Linked DNA regions of Homo sapiens: all the other regions are linked to region 2. Evidence: fine-mapped expression QTL. A gene starts in region 2. Each other region holds a variant in brackets. All regions are shown on one strand. Distances are from middle to middle.

Region 1 (5,637 bases), 120 kb before region 2:
CAGCCTGCTGAACTCCGGAGGGACCCCGGGTCTGTGGGGACACCACGCTCTACCCTGCCCTTGCTGGCCCCTCGCTTGGACCCCCAGGCCTGGGTCAGGGTCTGTTTTCCTCACTAAACTGGGGACATGAACCAGCAGCCCCCAGACATCATTAGTGTGGCAAGCCCAGTCCCTAAAAATGACAGAGAGGGAGGGAGGGAGGGAGGTGGATCTGATGGCCTTGGGCAGGTTGGGGACCACACCACTGGCGACAGGCCCCTTCTCCCTCCCTAGAGTCTTGGCTTTCCTGGCCCTGCCCTGAAGGCAGCACAATCCAGGAAGGCTGCCTGGAGGAGGGTGGTTCTGTTGGGCCTCCATAGAGGGTAGGATTTGGATGGGGGCTGTAAGCAAGAGGCAACCCCAGTGCAGGGATGGTGTGATGGGGGGACAGTCCCCTGTGCTTCCCGCCTGTGGGCAGGTGAGGCTGGGCAGGCTCCCCTGCGAGGCCCTGGGGGGAGAGTGGGGAGCAGACGTGTGCCCTGGAGGGTGTACAGGCCTGGTCTCCCACCTGGAGGGTGGCGGGGAGGGTAACCCAGGGCTGGGTCTGGGCAGGGATGGTCTGAAGGGATCCCGGAGAGGATAGGCCCATGGTGGCAGCAAGGGGGTGGCTAGGTGGGGATAGCAGAGGGATGGAGCCCTGTCACATTGGCTCCTGCTGCCCGGAAAAACTCAGGGCCCCAGCCCCTTTAGAAACCGTCCCAGCCTCACCCCCCACCCTCTTGACCACAATTGGCTCCCTGTTCCTCGCCTGCCCTGACCTGCTCCAGCCAGAGGCCCCCCTCGCAGCTCCCCGAAGGCACTGGGCTTGTTCCAGGTGCTGTGCCTGCCAGGAGCACTCCAGGCTCCTGTGAGCCTGGTACAGACACCACATCTAGGAGCCTTCCCACTCCCGACCAGGGCAGACCCCCCGCTTTCTACTAAGAGCACCCCGGGGCATCCCTTAGATACCTCACCACTCTGGGGAGCAACAGGCTTTTATGGGTGATTATGTTTTTAACGTCGCCTGCCCTCCATGCCCTGCTCTGACAGCAGGGACCGCAGTCACAGCCAGACCCCAGCCCAAGTCTGGTGTGCAGGAGGCACTCGGTCAATGGTGGCGGTGAGTGCCTGAGCACCCCCCTTCAGGAGGGGCCGCTGTCCGCAGGTCTGTGCCTCCTCCAGATGGGAGCACCCTGCAAGCTGGCCAGGGCTGATCCCCATTCCCCCAGGACACAGCACCCATCAGAAGGGGCCACTGTCAGCAGGTCTGTGCCTCCTCCAGATGGGAGCACCCTGTGAGCTGGCCAGGGCTGACCCCCATACCCCCTGGGACACGGTGCCCATCAGGAGGACCCATTGTCTGCAGGTCTGTGCCTCCTCCAGATGGGAGCACCCTGAGAGCTGGCGAGGGCTGATCCCCAGGCCCCCAGGACACAGCTCCTGATGCGCCAGGCAATGGACTGGTTGCTTTGGTTGATGAGGGAGGGAAGGAAAGGAGGAGGAAGGGAGAGGTGAGGAAAGAGGGAGGGAAGGAAGGAAGGAAGGGAGGGAAGGAAGGAAGATAGGTGAGCACACTCTCTCCCAGCTCCCTGTCTTCTTCCCTTTGCCCCGCAAGGCTGAGATTTCTCTGTGGCTGTGCCATCTTCAGGGAGGCAGTGCCCAGGGGAGTGTGGCAGGAAACGCCAGGCCCGGGGCTGCACCTCCTGAGCACTGTAGCTCCTAAACCCACCCGCTGAAGCTCCACAAATAACCCCAAAGAGGAACGGAGATCAATGCACTGCCCTATTGACAAAACCTCAGCCGTAATGCAGATAGCTCTCACGTTTTTATTGTGTTCATGTTGATTCATAGCGGTTTTGTCAATAAAAAAACACCGCACAAAGTCTCAACAGTAAAAACGTCACCAAAAATTATTTATTGCTATGATAACAGCAAATTATATATTGAAGGAGATTTGTGGCGTAGGGTGGGACAGAGGCTGGTGGCATCGTGGGTGGAGAGAGGGCCCCTCTAAACCTGCACTGTGGCCCCACCATCGCCTGAGTACACCCTGTGCCCAGCCCCGATGCAGGGCTGGCTTGGGCTCAGGGCACCGGCCCCCAGGTGACAGGGAAGTCATGGGTAGAGTCCACACCCACAGACACGAGGGAGAATGTGATCAGCAAAGTAACACAGGGACCTGCAGGCAGGACGGAACAGCTTTTCACCAGGGAAGCCAGGAAGAAGTCGTCACACAGTAATAACTGGGCCACCTTGGGAAGACCAGGTAGGTTTCAAATATTCACTTCCACGAGGAAGAAACGGCAGGAGCAAAAGCCGGAGGGTAAGGAAATGCTTAGCATGTTCGGAAGACACAGAAATAACATGCTTAGTGCCTGGGCGCGTGGTCCTGAGTGAGGGACGCTTGGGCAGCCCTGGATCAACCCGCACCTGCAAGAGCCTTCGCTTCCTTGCAGATGGCGACCGTCTCTGCAGATCTCTTCCATCAATAAAAGTGTTTTTATAAAATTTCTTCCTTGGAAAATTGACTCCCTGGTTTTGGTATTTCATGGGCAAAGTATAAATTGTGGAGGTGGCACCACCTATAAAAATGAGCTTTTCTTTCCAACTATAAATGCGCTTGGAGGTGGTGCGGAGTGCCCGGGTGGGTGGGGGGAGAACCTTAGCGGCTGGTGTCTGGTGTTACTGACA[G/A]TATCAGTGGGCGGGGGCTGGGCGTGGGCTGGAGCGGTGGGCGGGTCTGCTGAGGGTGTAGACACCAGGGCCAGGGCCAACCCGGGGTGGAGAAACTGGGGTGGGGGACGTGATGGGGAGGGTACTTGTTTAGAGCTGTGCATGCTATTTTGGGCAATTGACAAGGGGGTGGGGATAATTTTTCTTTTCCTGGAATGTCTGCCTGGGGGTCAAAAATTTATACTTACACCAAGTGGTTGGGTAAATAGGAAAGAACGCTTTTTTTTTTTTTTTTTCAAAAAAAAAAATCAGTGGAAGATTTCTGCTTCATACTGGCAGCCCTTTTCCTGCACATCTTTCTCTTTATGCGGTTTTGTCTCAGTGATTTGAGCATGTTCTAATTTTGTCATTCAAGCCATCTGACTTTCACTGCTCTATACAAACAAAACCTAATTTAGTCTGAGATGTTTTAAGTCATAGCAATGACGGATGGCCAGGGTTCAGGTGTGGTGGAATATTTAAATACCTAGTCTATATTTTTCTGATATAAAGACAGGCAGCTTTTTGTACTCTGATTAATTATGATTTTGCATTTCAGAAAAAAAATAGCTTTTTCTATTCTACATTATTAATTGGTTATTTAATTAGGAATTCTCCAAGCTTCAGATGTTGGGAAGCTAAATCTGTGAGTGGGTTTAAAAAAAAGCCAAGCTCTATCCTGTTGCCTTTTTGTATCTTATGAAGGTCACAATAAGACGTGATTGTTTGGCATAGCGGCAGTGAATTATGCCACCAGACAAGCTTTTAACCTATGCGCCTTAACTCTGAGTGAGACGCACGGGGCCTGTGCTCTCTTTAAACCGTTCTCTATTGAAGAGGATTCAATCACCATAATGAATCTGAGGCCAGGCAGCAATCTTCCGCACTGAAAGAATTTCTAAAAGATTGTAGAATTTGTAAAACGAACAGCTCGCAGACTAAATGGCTGTGTGGGTGAATCAATTATTGCAAGGCCCCGAGTAGTCATAATATTTAGTACATATCATAGAGTGTTTCAGGTACAATAAGATATGCTCGTTTTTCTCCGTTCCTGCTGGAAGTGGTACCGAAAGCCTCCACGCAACCCCGGCTCATCTGCCGCATCCCGGGAGAGCTGGGTCAGGTCGAGCGCACCCACCGCGCATCCACGCGTGGACGTGGGCACGTGCACAGGCAAGGAGGGGCTGCCTTCTGGAGAGGCGGGTGGTGGGGGAGCTAGAATACCTTCCCCCAACCTCCCCACTATTCCGTCAAGTCTGCCTCAGAAATCCATGGAGATGCTAAGTTGCCAGTTCTCTTTTTTTAGAGCCTGGTTTTGGACTGTTTCCTTATTAATACAATAATTATTTTTCTCTGACAGCACCATTTATAACCATCTACTCTGGGTCCAACTAGCCCTGTTTTCATTAATCAATGGTCATGGAGACGACTGTCATCACCTCTCTGGATGATGACTTATCGGCCTAATGCAGGCTCCTTTCTGGGGACCACAAATCAGGTGAGGATGGAGCCTTTTTGGCTGCTTGGTGTGAAAGCTTCTAACACAAAACTAGGTACCATCTAAAGACCTTTACCTCAGAGAAAGGCATCAGGGAGTTTCCGGGAGCTTGTGGAAGGTTGTTTTCACTGTGCTTTAAAGTTTGCAAGATGGGCAGCCCCTCTCAAGCAACATAGAGAAGCCTCGATGCAATCCAAGGGGAACTTAAAAAATATCCTGATGTCATCATGGCAAAGGCCCCAATTGGAGTATTGGAGGAAAGCTACCACGAGGCCAAGAAAGGGTTAGAGATGAATGTTACATAGATTGGGACTGAGGCAGGGTTCTACATTGGCTGTCCGCAGAATGAAGCTGGGAGATCCTTGAAGTCCCTTTAATGCAATTCCCAGTTGCCTCTATTCACATTGCAATGACGGCTCCTCTCCTTAGCATTCTGCCATAGAAGGGAACAAGTAGTACTCAGTTTCTCAAAGCCCCAGAAGCGGCACTGCTCAGTGTCCCCTTAGTTTATGCTCCCCGGATGAATCTTTCCATCTTGAGGCCTATGAAACTACAACTCTGTCTTCAGAGGGTGGGAACATCTGTTCTGTTTTGTGACGATTTTTAGCCTGGCTTTGCCTCTGTGGTTGTTCATTTGTCATGAGCATTCTGTCAATGTGAATGGCTCACCAATCTCAGCTGGTAAGGAAATAAAAAGAAAATCCCTCATATTGTTCTAAACTCTGTGCAGAAATCTCCTCCTGTGAACCTCACCTTTGAGCGCCTTTGCTAATAGAGGACAAAGAGGTTAAGTCTTTTTTTGAAGTCTTCAGCTGGTAGACTGCAGGGCCAGTACTCAAGCATGAATCTTGGGAGCCCCTACCTCCTCCCTACAAAGTGTCTCCTAGCTGGGTGTTTCTCCCTTCACCAGTTCCTCCCTGCTTCACCCAGGGCACCCACGACACTTCCCCAGAGAAAAGGAGAGGCTCTCCTCCCAAATGAGCCCAGAGCAGAGATCCTCACCAGCTTGCTCAGGCAACAGCAAATGGGCCAGACCATCCATTCCCAAAACATTCCTTCAGCCCAGCTCTCAACAGCCTCATTCCAATACTCTGCTAAGAGAAAAGGAGAATAAACAGAAGCAGCTAGAAGAGCTACCTGGCAATGAGATCCACATCAACAGATAATATCAAGTACTTACAAAAGAATCTAACAAACCTCATGCCTGTAATCCCAGCACTTTGGGAGGCTGAGGTGGGCAGATCACGAGGTCGGGAGTTTGAGGCCAGCCTGGCCAATATGGTGAAACCCCGTAAAAATACAAAAATTAGCCAGGTGTGGTGGTGCGTGCCTGTAATCCCAGCTACTTGGGAGGCTGATGCAGGAGAATCGCTTGAACCTGGGAGGTGGAGCTTGCAGTGAGCCGAGATGAC
Region 2 (5,637 bases):
GGATGTCACTACGCTTCTACTTTACTAGAACTCACTGTACTCCCACAACTGGGCCAGCTTTAAAGCCTAAATAAATTGCTTCACAAAAAATTTTCACTGCCGATTTACTGGGTAGTTTTCCTGTACTACACTATAATTACAGTGCAGCTATCTAATCAGTTTATTTTGTGGCCTTGTGGGTCTCCTGTCCACTGAAGCAAATGCTTCTATTAAATAAAGATAGATTAAATACTGACGCGCTTTTTCCTGAACTGGGGATAATTTTACACACCCATGACAGATATACGTGGTTATTTTGTGTGCCGAATTAACATTAACACAACACAGAAAAATAATTTGGTAGCACAGTCAATGTCTACAGAAAACAGTCATTCAGTTTGCCACAAGACTGTAACTGAAAAAGCAGTTACTCTCTCTTCCAATGTAACTCAACACGATACCAGAAAGCTGTTCAGAGCACCCCAAAAAGTATCCTTTGCATTTCAGTCACACTAACATCAGAATAAAACTAAGGATATCTTTTTAATATGCCAAATGGCAGAAAACATATCAAGTCAGCATTATGCACGTATTATACACTGAAGGAGGTGAAATTAACCCACTGCAGCAGAGGAAAGGCAATAGAAACACCATCCTCTGAGGGTCTGTGTCACATTCTCTGAAAGAATAAAAAATGCCAAGTTTTGGCAAAAGGAGTAAGATTTCATGAGGGGCTGTTTTTTCTTTCTTCTTTTTCTATCTTTCTCTTTTAAAAAAATACATTAATGTCTTCTAATTTAAAGACGCCAAACTAGTTAAGTTTTATATATATATATATATATATATATATATATATATATATATATATATATATATGAATGACAGGGTCTCACTCTGTCGCCCAGGGTGAAGTGCAGTTGCATGACCATGGCCCACTGCAGCCTCAAACGCCTGAGCTCAAGTGATCCTCTCACCTCAGCCTCCCAAGTACGTGGGACTACAAGCGTGCACCACCATGGCCCGGCTAATTTTTTGTATTTTTTTGTATAGACGGAGGTCTCCCTGTGTTGCCCAGGCTGATCTCGAACTCCTTGGCTTCAAGCAATTCCACGACCTTGACATCCCAAGCAGCTGGGATTACAGGTTTGAGTCACCACCCTAGCCACTGGATTTTTAAACCTTCATCTTGAAAACATGGCTTCCAAACCTAACAGTTGCGTTATTAGAGAAAAATGGCTGAGAAATGAAAATCCAACCCACAAAATAATTTAAACCAACCAGAACAAAGAAAGATTCCCGCAGTTCATCCCAACAGGTGGTTTCCAAGCAAACGAGGGTTTTTTAAGTTCTATCAAAACCCCCATCTAGTAGAACTGAGTATATTTTTGTATCTATGTAAACAGTCGTTCTTATACAGGAATGTTCAATTAAAAAGTTAAGAACTTTTAAACTGCTTATAGTGTTGAAGCAACTTCCTAACCCTTTATAATCCATGCTCTTCCAAACATGACATAAAATATTTTAAGCAAATTAAATACTGCTTTTCAAAGTAACAATTTCAAGACACTTGAGGGGACAGAATCAATCTGAAAGACCACAGAATCCACAGAAAAATCAGATTTAACAATAAAACTATTTCTTAAATTGGGAATACTTCTTTATATAAAGTCCCACTAGGAAACACAAAACTTTGTACCCTTTTCACCAGTAGTTTAAAACTCATTTATTATACGATGAAATTAAAATTTGTAAAAATGAGCCGGGTGCGGTGACTCAGGCCTATAATCCCAACACTTTGGGAGGCGAGGTGGGGAAGGGTAGGAGGGGGAGGATCGCTTGAGGCCAGAAGTTCGAGATTAGCCTGGGCAACATAGTGAGACTCTCTTTTTTTTTTAATGTTTAAATGGCATTATATTGTGACAAATATTAAATAACCAAATATTGCACAGGAAGCATTATCATGACAAACGCGGTAAAACTTTTCCGTGCAATCAAAGAGCAACAAACAGTACACATTTTAAGCAATGTTTAGGTCATTACAAGCTACAAATATTAAGGCGAACGCTTCCGTTGACAGCGTGCTGCCCCCGCCCCCAAATTCCCACGCGCTGCCGCACGCCTTCAGCTCAGAAGCCCCCTTTCCTGGGCAGGCGAACGGGCTGCACACCCCTCACTCCGCTGCGAAGTCAAAGGGCTGCAGACAAAGACAACAGAAGCACGTGACAAAAGTTTATCCCCGTTCCCTCCGGGGGCCCGGGCAGCTGGGCCTAGGCCACGCGGGGCGGCGGCCCAGAGCACAGGCAGGGGCAGCCCGGCGGGCGGAGGCGGAAGCGGCGCGGGGCTGCTAGTTACCTTTTCCTGCTCCTCGCGCAGCCGCGCCACATCCGGGGCGCGCAACGGAACCAGGGCAGGGGCCGGGGCCGAAGGGGGCGAGGGGTCGGGGGGCGTCTCCACGGTGGGCGCCTCCATGACGGGCCCGCGGGCCTCAGCGCGGCGTGTGAGTCCTGAACCAGCGCCTGCGCAGGCGGCGCGGCCGGCAGTTGCCCAGCGCCCGCGCGCCCGCCCTCAGGCACCGCGCGCCCCGCGCCCAGGAGGCCGCGCCCGCCGCCGCCGCTGCTGTTCGCGTCCGCGCCGCCCGCTGCCGCATCTCACACGTGCATGTCCCCGCCGCCGCCGCCCCGCAGCGGGCTCCGAGTAGCAGGCCGCCTGCCAGGTACCGAGACGCCTCTCCGGTGCGGGCCCAGCCAGGCGTCGCGTGGCGGCCGCGCCTCCCCACACGCCCCGCCTCTCGCGGCACGCCGGAAGCAAGCGCGCAGGCCCCGCCCCCGACACGCCCAGCTCGCGCAGGCCCCGCCCCCAGGGGAGTGCGCTTGATGCGAACCGCGTGGCTGGGGCTGGCGGTGTCCGCGCTGGGCTGCGTTTGTATCCCTCTGGAAGCTTACATTTTATGCCGATATTTCTTTCTTTTTTTTTTTTTGAGATTACGTATATGAAAGCACTAAATATAGGCTTTGGAACCTTAAAAAAAAAAAGCTTACATTCTATAGAAGCTCCACGCCCAGGAAACGCTCGGCAACAAGAGCCGCGTGTCGCCTTGAGTGCCCCATCTCCCTCCCCGTCGTTTGGCGCTGCATCTGTATCTAGGAGCTTAATTCATGTACTAGAGCTGTTTCATAAGCACATTTAATTTTAGCAAATTCAACTCTTTCTGTGCCTTTTTAGTGAGTTGAAATATACAATTATATTTTGCATGTTCATTAATTACTGTACACATTGTATTTTCTCTTATATAAATTAAGCTACTGTACTAATTTTAATATGCTGCTATGAATGGACTAAGAAATTTTCCAAGGATAACTTTGCCCCCACTTTTCTTTTTTTTTTTTTTTTTTTTAAGAGACTGAGTCTTGGTCTGTCGCCCGGGCTGGAGTGCAGTAGTGCCATCATTTCTCACTGCAGCCTCAAACTCCTAGACTCAAGCGATCTTCCCACCTCAGCCTCAGGAGTAGCTGGGACCACTGGCCCGCACCAACACATCCTGTTAATTTTTCTATTTTTTGTAGAGGCGGGGTCTCCCTATGTTGCCCAGGCTGGTCTTGACATTAAGCGAGCCTCCTGTCTTAGCTAACCTCCTGTCTTGGATTCCCTGAAGTGCTAGGATTACAGGTGTGAGCTACCACACCTGGCCGTTCCAATTATTTTAGAACTCCTGTGCCCACTTCCTCCTACAGCCCTTTGTACAGCCTCCTATTAACCTAACTGCGTGAAAGTGGCCTTGCCTTATCTGCTGCAGTCGCTAGCAGTAAAGATGGGTCGTGTTCGTTCCACATCATACAGACAAGTCTAGGCAGAGAGATGCCTGCAGAGTCACAGCCTGGTGTGCCTGCTTGCTCTGCTTCTCTTCCCTCACTCCTGCCCAGCTCCCAAGTCCAGATCCACCCTTTTTTTCCTTTTTATGGCTTCAAAGGAAGAAAGCAAGGACAACTTGGGAAAAGATAAATGTTCATTCCTGTCTTTTCCTCACTGCATATCCAACCATCATCACCTCTGGAACAGCCAGGACCTGACCATTGTTACCATCTCTTCTACCACCACCATCCTCTCTCCATCCCCAGCCACCTCAGCAACCATTGATCTGGCCTTGCTGCCCCTACTCTTGTCCCTTGTAATGGAGATCGGCTGCTGCCCACCCCACTTCCCCTCGTTTAGGGGCTTAACCCGCGACCACATAGTCCTGTGCCTGTAGGAAGCTGACCCACCCCCTAGCTCCAGGCAAAGGGGGTGATGCATCTCCCTTCTAAATAGTTGGTTCAAGAATGGGTGTGCGATGTCGTCCAAACAGAGACTTCCTGGAGGCTTCTGGGAAGGTTCTTTTTTTTTTCCTCTGTTGCCCAGGCTGGAGTGCAATGGTGCCATCTTGGCTCACTGCACCCTCTGCCTCTTGGGTTCAAGCGATTCTCCTGCCTCAGCCTCCTGAGTAGCTGGGACTACAGGCGCGTGCCACCACACCTGGCTAATTTTTGTATTTTTAGTAGAAACAGGGTTTCACCATGTTGGCCAGGCTGGTCTCAAACTCCTGGCCTCAAGTGATCCACCCGCCTTGGCCTCCTAAAGTGCTGGGATTACAGGCAAGAGCCACCACGCCTCTCCTGAGAAGGTTCTTCCTCATTCTTCAAAAGTGCTCCCATAAGGAATCAGTCTATCCCCTTGGCCAGGAAGTGCAAAGCAGGTAGCCCCATGTGTATCAGACAGCCCCCCAGACCACCTAGACACTCCAGTACTCAGAATGAAGTGCGATCTGTGGTCAGCAGAGCTGAGAACAGAACCCAATCCTTGACAGCATCACAGAACTTGATCCAGGGCTGAATCAACCAGCTCTGGAGTCTGCATCACTTCTGAACTTCCCGTTTAAAAGGCCAGTAAATTTTCTAAATGACCAGGACAATTTTCTATCATGAGCAGCCAAAGACATCCAATTCGCACACCTCTAAACTATTATCCACTCAGCAGTCTGGGTGAGCTTTTCAAAGGGGATCAGGTCATGTCAGTCTCCCTTCTAGGGCCCTCCATGGCTTCCCACAGCAACCAGAATCAAATCCAGACATCCTACTAGAATTCAGCATTGTCGGACCCACCTTCCCCACCTCCAACCAAGCCCCCTACCACTCAAGCCAACCACAACAATTTCTCTCTTCTTCAGATACTCCAGACTAGTTCCTGCCTCAGGGCCTTTGCACCTGCTGATCTCTCTGCCTGCAATATTTCTCCCATATCTTTCCATGGTTGCCTCCTTGCCATTACTCAGGCCTCAGTTCAAATAATAACAGGGCTTTCTTGATCTCCTGTCCACAAAAGCCCCTCCCCTCTCCTCTAGGCATCTGCCCTCACCTCACTTTTTAAATTTTCTTTGTAGCACTTATCACACTTTCAAATGATCAGCTTTGGCCGGGCGCAGTGGCTCATGCCTGTAATCCCAGCACTTTGGGAGGTGGAGGCAGGCGGATCATTTGAGGTCAGGAGTTTGAGACCAGCCTGGCCAACATGATGAAACCCCATCTCTACTAAAAATACAAAAATTAGCCGCCGTGGTGGCACACACCTGTAATCCCAGCTACTCGGGAGGCTGAGGTAGGAGAATCGCTTGAACCTGGGAGGCAG
Region 3 (5,637 bases), 58 kb after region 2:
AAGGAGAGGAGGGACCAGGTGACTGATAAGGGGCCCTCAACCCTGCCTGCCCCAGAGTCACTGTGGAACTCTCCATACAGGGAGAGAAAGCAGAACTACCCAGAAAGCCCCCTGACTTGCCACCGGGACAGCATGCGTGGTTTATGGTCCACAGCTCCGTACAGGAACTCTCGCATGTGTTCATGTTCATTGATATCCTCCAGTCTGCACCAAAGGATGTCTGAGAATTAACGATCAACTCCAGTTTCCTGGAAATGAATGTGGAGGGGCAGACTGAGGTTGCAGGGTGTTCCTGGAGGCCTACGGTGAGACCTGTGCTACTGTGGTCAGCTCTATTCACAATGCATGCTTGAAAATGAGGCATCAGGGTAAATAACAGTGCTCTCTGGGTTTTTTTTTTTTTCTTCCCCCGCTCTGCTCCCTTTTTTTTTTTTTTTTTTTTTTTGAGACAGACCCAGGCTGTTGTATAACTGGCATGATCTTGGCTCACTGCAGCCTCCACCTCCTGGGTTCAAGTGATTCTCCTGCCTTGGCTTCCTGAGTAGTTGGGATTACAGGTGCCCACCACCATGCCCAGCTAACTTTTATATTTTTAGTAGAGGCGGGGTTTCGCCACGTTGGCCAGGCTGGTCTCGAACTCCTGACCTCAAGTGATCCAATGGCCTCGGTCTCCCAAAGTACTGGGATTACAGGCATGAGCCACTGCACCTGGCCTTTCCCCTGTATTTTTATGCATAGGTTGGAAGTGCTCTCTGTCTGGGGGGCCACGTGGAAAGATGGGTCAAAGACGGAAGCAGTGATGCTCCCAATAGCATCCTGGCTGCAGATCAGCTGGGTCTGGAGCTAAATCTTGGTGAATTTGACACACAGCCTGATTATTGTCTGGAAAGTTCTGGAGAGGAACTCAGTCACCTGTCACCTGTCTTCCCAGGCAGGTATTTCCTTCGAGCTCTTTGAACCTCAGCACCCTGCTGGGGAGTGACCCCTGCCTGGGTTTAGGTTCTGCAGTTGGCATGCAGGTCAAAATGTATCGGAGGTGTGCCTGCAACACAGGCCAGGGCCTGACTGGTGCTGTGTGTGCCATTATCCTGGAATTGAAGGGAGGAGAAGGCACTAGAATTTTGAAGACGCTTCTCAGGCGAGGGCTGTGCATAGCCAGGGTTGACAGGCTCAGGAGCTGGGAGGGGGTCCTGGGAAGAGGGTGAGAATTGGACTCTGATCTCACCAGCCAGGTGCTTCAGGCTGGACCCCAGAAACACCTGTCAGGTAGGTCACAGAGATGAAGGACAACTCAGGTCCCAAGAAGTCGAGAAGAGAGCCAGCCAGTGAGCAGGTTTAAAAGTTAGAGCTGGGCCAGGTGCGGTGGCTCACGCCTGTAATCCCAACACTTTGGGAGGCCAAAGTGGGGGATCACTTGGGGCCAGGAGTTTGAGACCAGCCCAGCCAACCTGGCGAAACCCTGTCTCTACAAAAAATACAAAAATTAGCCAGGTGTAGTGGTACACACCTGTAGTCCCAGATATTCTGGAGGCTGAGGCATGAGAAGCGCTTGAACCCAGGAGGTGGAGGTTGCGTGAGCTGAGATCACACCACTGCACTCCAGCCTGGGTGACAGAGCGAGACTCTTTGTCTCAAAAAAATAAAAAGTAAATAAAAGCTGGAGCTGGCTGGACTGTGGGGCTCATGCCTGAAATCCCAGTGCTTTGGGAGGCCGAGGAAGGAGGATCGTGTGAGCCCAAGAATTCCAGATCTCCACACAAAAAATAAATACATAAAAATAAATTTTTTAAAAATCAAAATATTAGCAAGGCGTTGTGGCACATGCCTGTAGTCCCAGGTACTCAGGAGGCTGAGGTGGGAGGATCGCTTGAGCCCAGGAATTTGAGGCTGCAGTGAGCTGAGATGGGGCCACTGCACTCCAGCCTGGGCAACACAGCAAAATCCCATCTCTAAAGTAAACAAAACAAAATAAAATAGCTGGAGCTTCTTGTCACCATAGGAGCTGAGAAGGGACTAGATTTGTCGTAACAAAACTCCTGCACGGGGTCCGGAGACATCATCTCAGACCATCCCCCAATGGCTCCCCGCAACCCTGGGCTATCAGGGATGAGGGGCTGCTTTTCAAGGAGGCCAGTCCAGGACCTTGGCCTGGCCTGCCTGACACAGCTACTCCTGGCTGCCTCCCCGCCCCTCCCACACATCTGCATGGGATGGCTGCCCTCCTTGCTCACCGCGGCCACACAAGCCTGCCCGTCTTGGCTTCCAG[G/A]AGCCGCAGTGCGCAGGCCAGGAGCAGCAGCCATCCTCTGGCTCTTCTGCCTTGGCTGAAAGTCAAGGTTATTTCTGCCCCTCCTACCTTTTCCCAAAAGCCCTCAAGGGCAGGGCCGGTTATGGGCAGGGCAGTGCGAGGGGTTGGAGGGCCATTCTGCCCAGGCCACTCATTCCTGATGAGCCCCCAATGCAGCCTGTTGTCGCTGTGTTGGGGAGGGTTTCTAGGAAGTATCTATGTGTGTTGAAGTTAAAGCATTCACTTGCTAAATATAGATGTATTCGGTTCACCTTAATTTGTGTAACCCCTGCTTTAGGAAAGAAGAAAAGAAAGAAAGAGAGAGAAGGAAGGGAATGAGAATGGGAAGGGGAAGGGGAAGGAGAAGGAGAGGAAAGGAAAGGAAAGGAAGAAGGAAGAAGGAAGGAAAGGTGAGAGGGAGAGAAGGAGGAAGGGGAGGGAGGGAGAGAAGGAAAGAAAGAAAAGAAAGAAAAGAAGGGTGCAGTGGCTTACACCTGTAATCCCAGCACTTTGGGAGGCCAAGGCAGGTGGATCACTTGAGGTCAGGAGTTCGAGACCAACCTGGCCAACATGGTGAAAACCCATCTCTACTTTTAGTAGATATAAAAATTAGCTGGAGGCTGGGTGCGGTGGCTCACGCCTGTAATCCCAGCACTTTGGGAGGCCAAGGCGGGTGGATCACGAGGTCAGGAGATCGAGACCGTCGTGGCTAACACGGTGAAACCCTGCCTCTATTAAAGAAATACAAAAAATTAGCCGAGCACGGTGGCGGGCGCCCGTAGTCCCAGCTACTCAGGAGGCTGAGGCAGGAGAATGGCGTGAACCTGGGAGGCGGAGCTTGCAGTGAGCCAAGATCGTGCCACTGTACTCCAGCCTGGGTGACAGAGCAAGACTCTGTCTCAAAAAAAAAAAAAAAAAAAATTTGCTGGGCATGGTAGTGCACACCTGTAATTCCTGTTACTTGGGAGGTTCAGGCAGGAGAATCACTAGAAGCCAGGAGACCGAGGTTGCAGTGAACGGAGATCATACCACTGCACTGCAGCCTGGGTGACAGAGAAAGACCCTATCTCAAAAAACAAAACCAAAAATAAAAAAAGAAAGAAACAGAGAAAGAAACAAAGAAACAAAGAAAAAGAAAAGCTCTCTAAAACTCATCAGGAACAAACTCCAAAGACAGCATCTCTCAGGTGAGCTCAGGAAGGGCTCTGAGTGTTTTGAAAATCAGGACTTGGTGAGGCCCAGTGGTGAGAGTGTCTGTGTAAAGTTGCATTATTCAGAACAAGTTTTCCTGTATAAAAATAATACCAAAAAACTAACCGCAAATGTCAGTAATCAGAGGTTTGGAATTTGGACTACTTCTGCTCCAGAAGGAACTATCTGGAAAGACGGCAGACGGGACCAGTTTCTTTCTGGGGAACGAGACTGGGCTGATGTCAGAATTCCCCAATTTAAAATCAGAACTTCCCCCTGTCCCCAGCTCCAGGCCCTCCTGGCTCCTGGGAGCCACAGAGAGATGGCTCCCGTGGGCAGCCGCTGTGGATGGATCCTTTATTGGGCATCTTGAATTCCAAGCACCAGCCCCACATTTGCAAGCAGAGCCTCCAGGTGACCAAAGTGGAGCTGCACCTGTGACGTGCTAACTCCCCATCTGCTGGGCGGCACAGCGGGGCAGAGGGAAGGTGGAGAACCGCTACCGTCTCCACCCCTCCAACCCCACCCCTCCCCCAGCCAGCTAAAGCGGCTTCAGGAAGGGCCACGTTCTGAAATGAGGGCTGGGGGCAGGCCACGAGGGTGCTATTAGTCCTGTGTTTGCGGCCTCCTTGCCTGCCTGGCTGGTCCATGAGACCAAGCAAGGCCCTTTCTCCCCACCAGCGGGGAACATGCTGCCACCGGAGGGATGGCAAAGGGTTTACGGGCAGTTGACAACTTGGTGTGCTATTTCCATAAGTGCTGATGAGTTTCTACCAGTTGTTCACACATCATTCAAGAGATACCTTTTGAACACCAAGAATACACAAAGCCCAGGCAGGGAGGGCAGAGAGCCTATGCCTGGCTAACACCGGCAGGAGGCAGCTGCTCCCTTCTTTGATGGAGGCAAGTACTCCAGAGGTGACAGAGGGGCCTTGCACCCAGGCTTCGGGGCAGCCACGCAGAGGCTCGGCAGAGGGTGCTTCATTATGGGCCAGGCATTGCCCCAACCCCCACCCTCGCCTGGGGCTACCCACTGCTCCCACTTCTCAGGGGCAGGAAGTAAGCCTGTGAGAGGTTAAGGAGCTTCCCCAGGCCTTTCACTACTCAGTGGTAGAGCTGGGACTTGAACCCATAGCACATGCCTCACACCTCTCCTCGAGCTAGAACCACTTACATGTTTGGGGGTCCGAAAGGCCAGCGTCCGTTGTAAATAATACAGGAACAGAGATGGGCTCTTGGAATGAACATGTCACTCCTGGCCGGGCCGGTGGCTCATGTCTGTAATCCCAGCATTTTGAGAGGCCCAGCTGGGGGGATCACTTGAGGTCAGAAGTTCGAGACCAGATATGGTGAAACCCTGTCTCTACTAAAAATACAAAAATTAGCCAGGCATGGTGGTGCATGCCTGTAATCCCAGCTACTCGGGAGGCTGAGGCAGGAGAATCGCTTGAACCCAAGAGGCGGAGGTTTCAGTGAGCCGAGATCGCGCCACTGCCCTCCAGCCTGGGCAACTGTGGAGACAGGGTCTCACTATGTTGCAGAGGCTGGTCTCGAACTCCTGGGCTCATCAAGGAATCCTCCTGCCTTGACTTCCCAAAGTGTTGAGATTACAGGCGTGATCTGTAATCAGATTTTTGAGACTCCATCTCAAAATAAACCAAGAGAAAATGTCAGCCCTTTGTTGGATGAAGCCATTCCAGGCTGGTGTCACATAATTCACTGTGCTTCCCTGCCCATCCCTCACCCACTGCAGACCTGAAATAGGGCATTGCAAGGGACACCACGACATTTGCAGATGCACACCATTTCTTATGGGTGAGCGCTGATTAGTCACAGGCCACGCAGCCCAGCCCTGTGCTGAATGATGTGGGGCAGATTAGAAACCACAGCCCATTTCTGCTCCTAAGGCTGAATTCCTCCATGGGAAGTCAGGATCAGAAAGCAAAGCAGGAGACGAATATGATCAAGCATTGGATGGCAGCCCCCATTCTCTTATTTCTGCATTTCTCTTAAAGTTCTGTGTTTCAGTCAAGAGTCCACCCAAGGCGGGGCAAGGTGGCTCATGCCTGTAATCTCAGCGTTATGGGCAGTCAAGGCAGGAGGATTCCTTGATGAGCCCAGGAGTTCAAGACGAGCCTGTGCAATATAGTGAGACCCTGTCT

The links. PIP is the estimated chance that this variant, and not a neighbour inherited with it, causes the effect. A credible set is the group of variants that fine-mapping cannot tell apart.
Region 1: its variant is the best candidate, but not a certain one, in a credible set for the expression of URI1 in whole blood (TOPMed, PIP 0.67).
Region 3: its variant is the best candidate, but not a certain one, in a credible set for the expression of URI1 in thyroid (GTEx, PIP 0.73).

The regions. Positions count from the first base shown.
Region 1 is chr19:30,058,168-30,063,804 of GRCh38, reverse strand. No RefSeq gene overlaps it. Among named protein-coding and RNA genes, the nearest start is that of URI1, 120 kb to the right of the region's middle. The variant G/A (reference allele first, on the strand shown) is at 2,710.
Region 2 is chr19:29,939,359-29,944,995 of GRCh38, reverse strand. URI1 (URI1 prefoldin like chaperone) reads right to left here and starts at 2,757. Exons shown (of 11, transcript NM_003796.3): 1 at 2,332-2,757. The coding sequence starts at 2,448. RefSeq lists a silencer at 2,232-2,901 and an enhancer at 2,922-3,011.
Region 3 is chr19:29,881,282-29,886,918 of GRCh38, reverse strand. No RefSeq gene overlaps it. Among named protein-coding and RNA genes, the nearest start is that of URI1, 58 kb to the left of the region's middle. RefSeq lists an enhancer at 4,153-4,688. The variant G/A (reference allele first, on the strand shown) is at 2,267.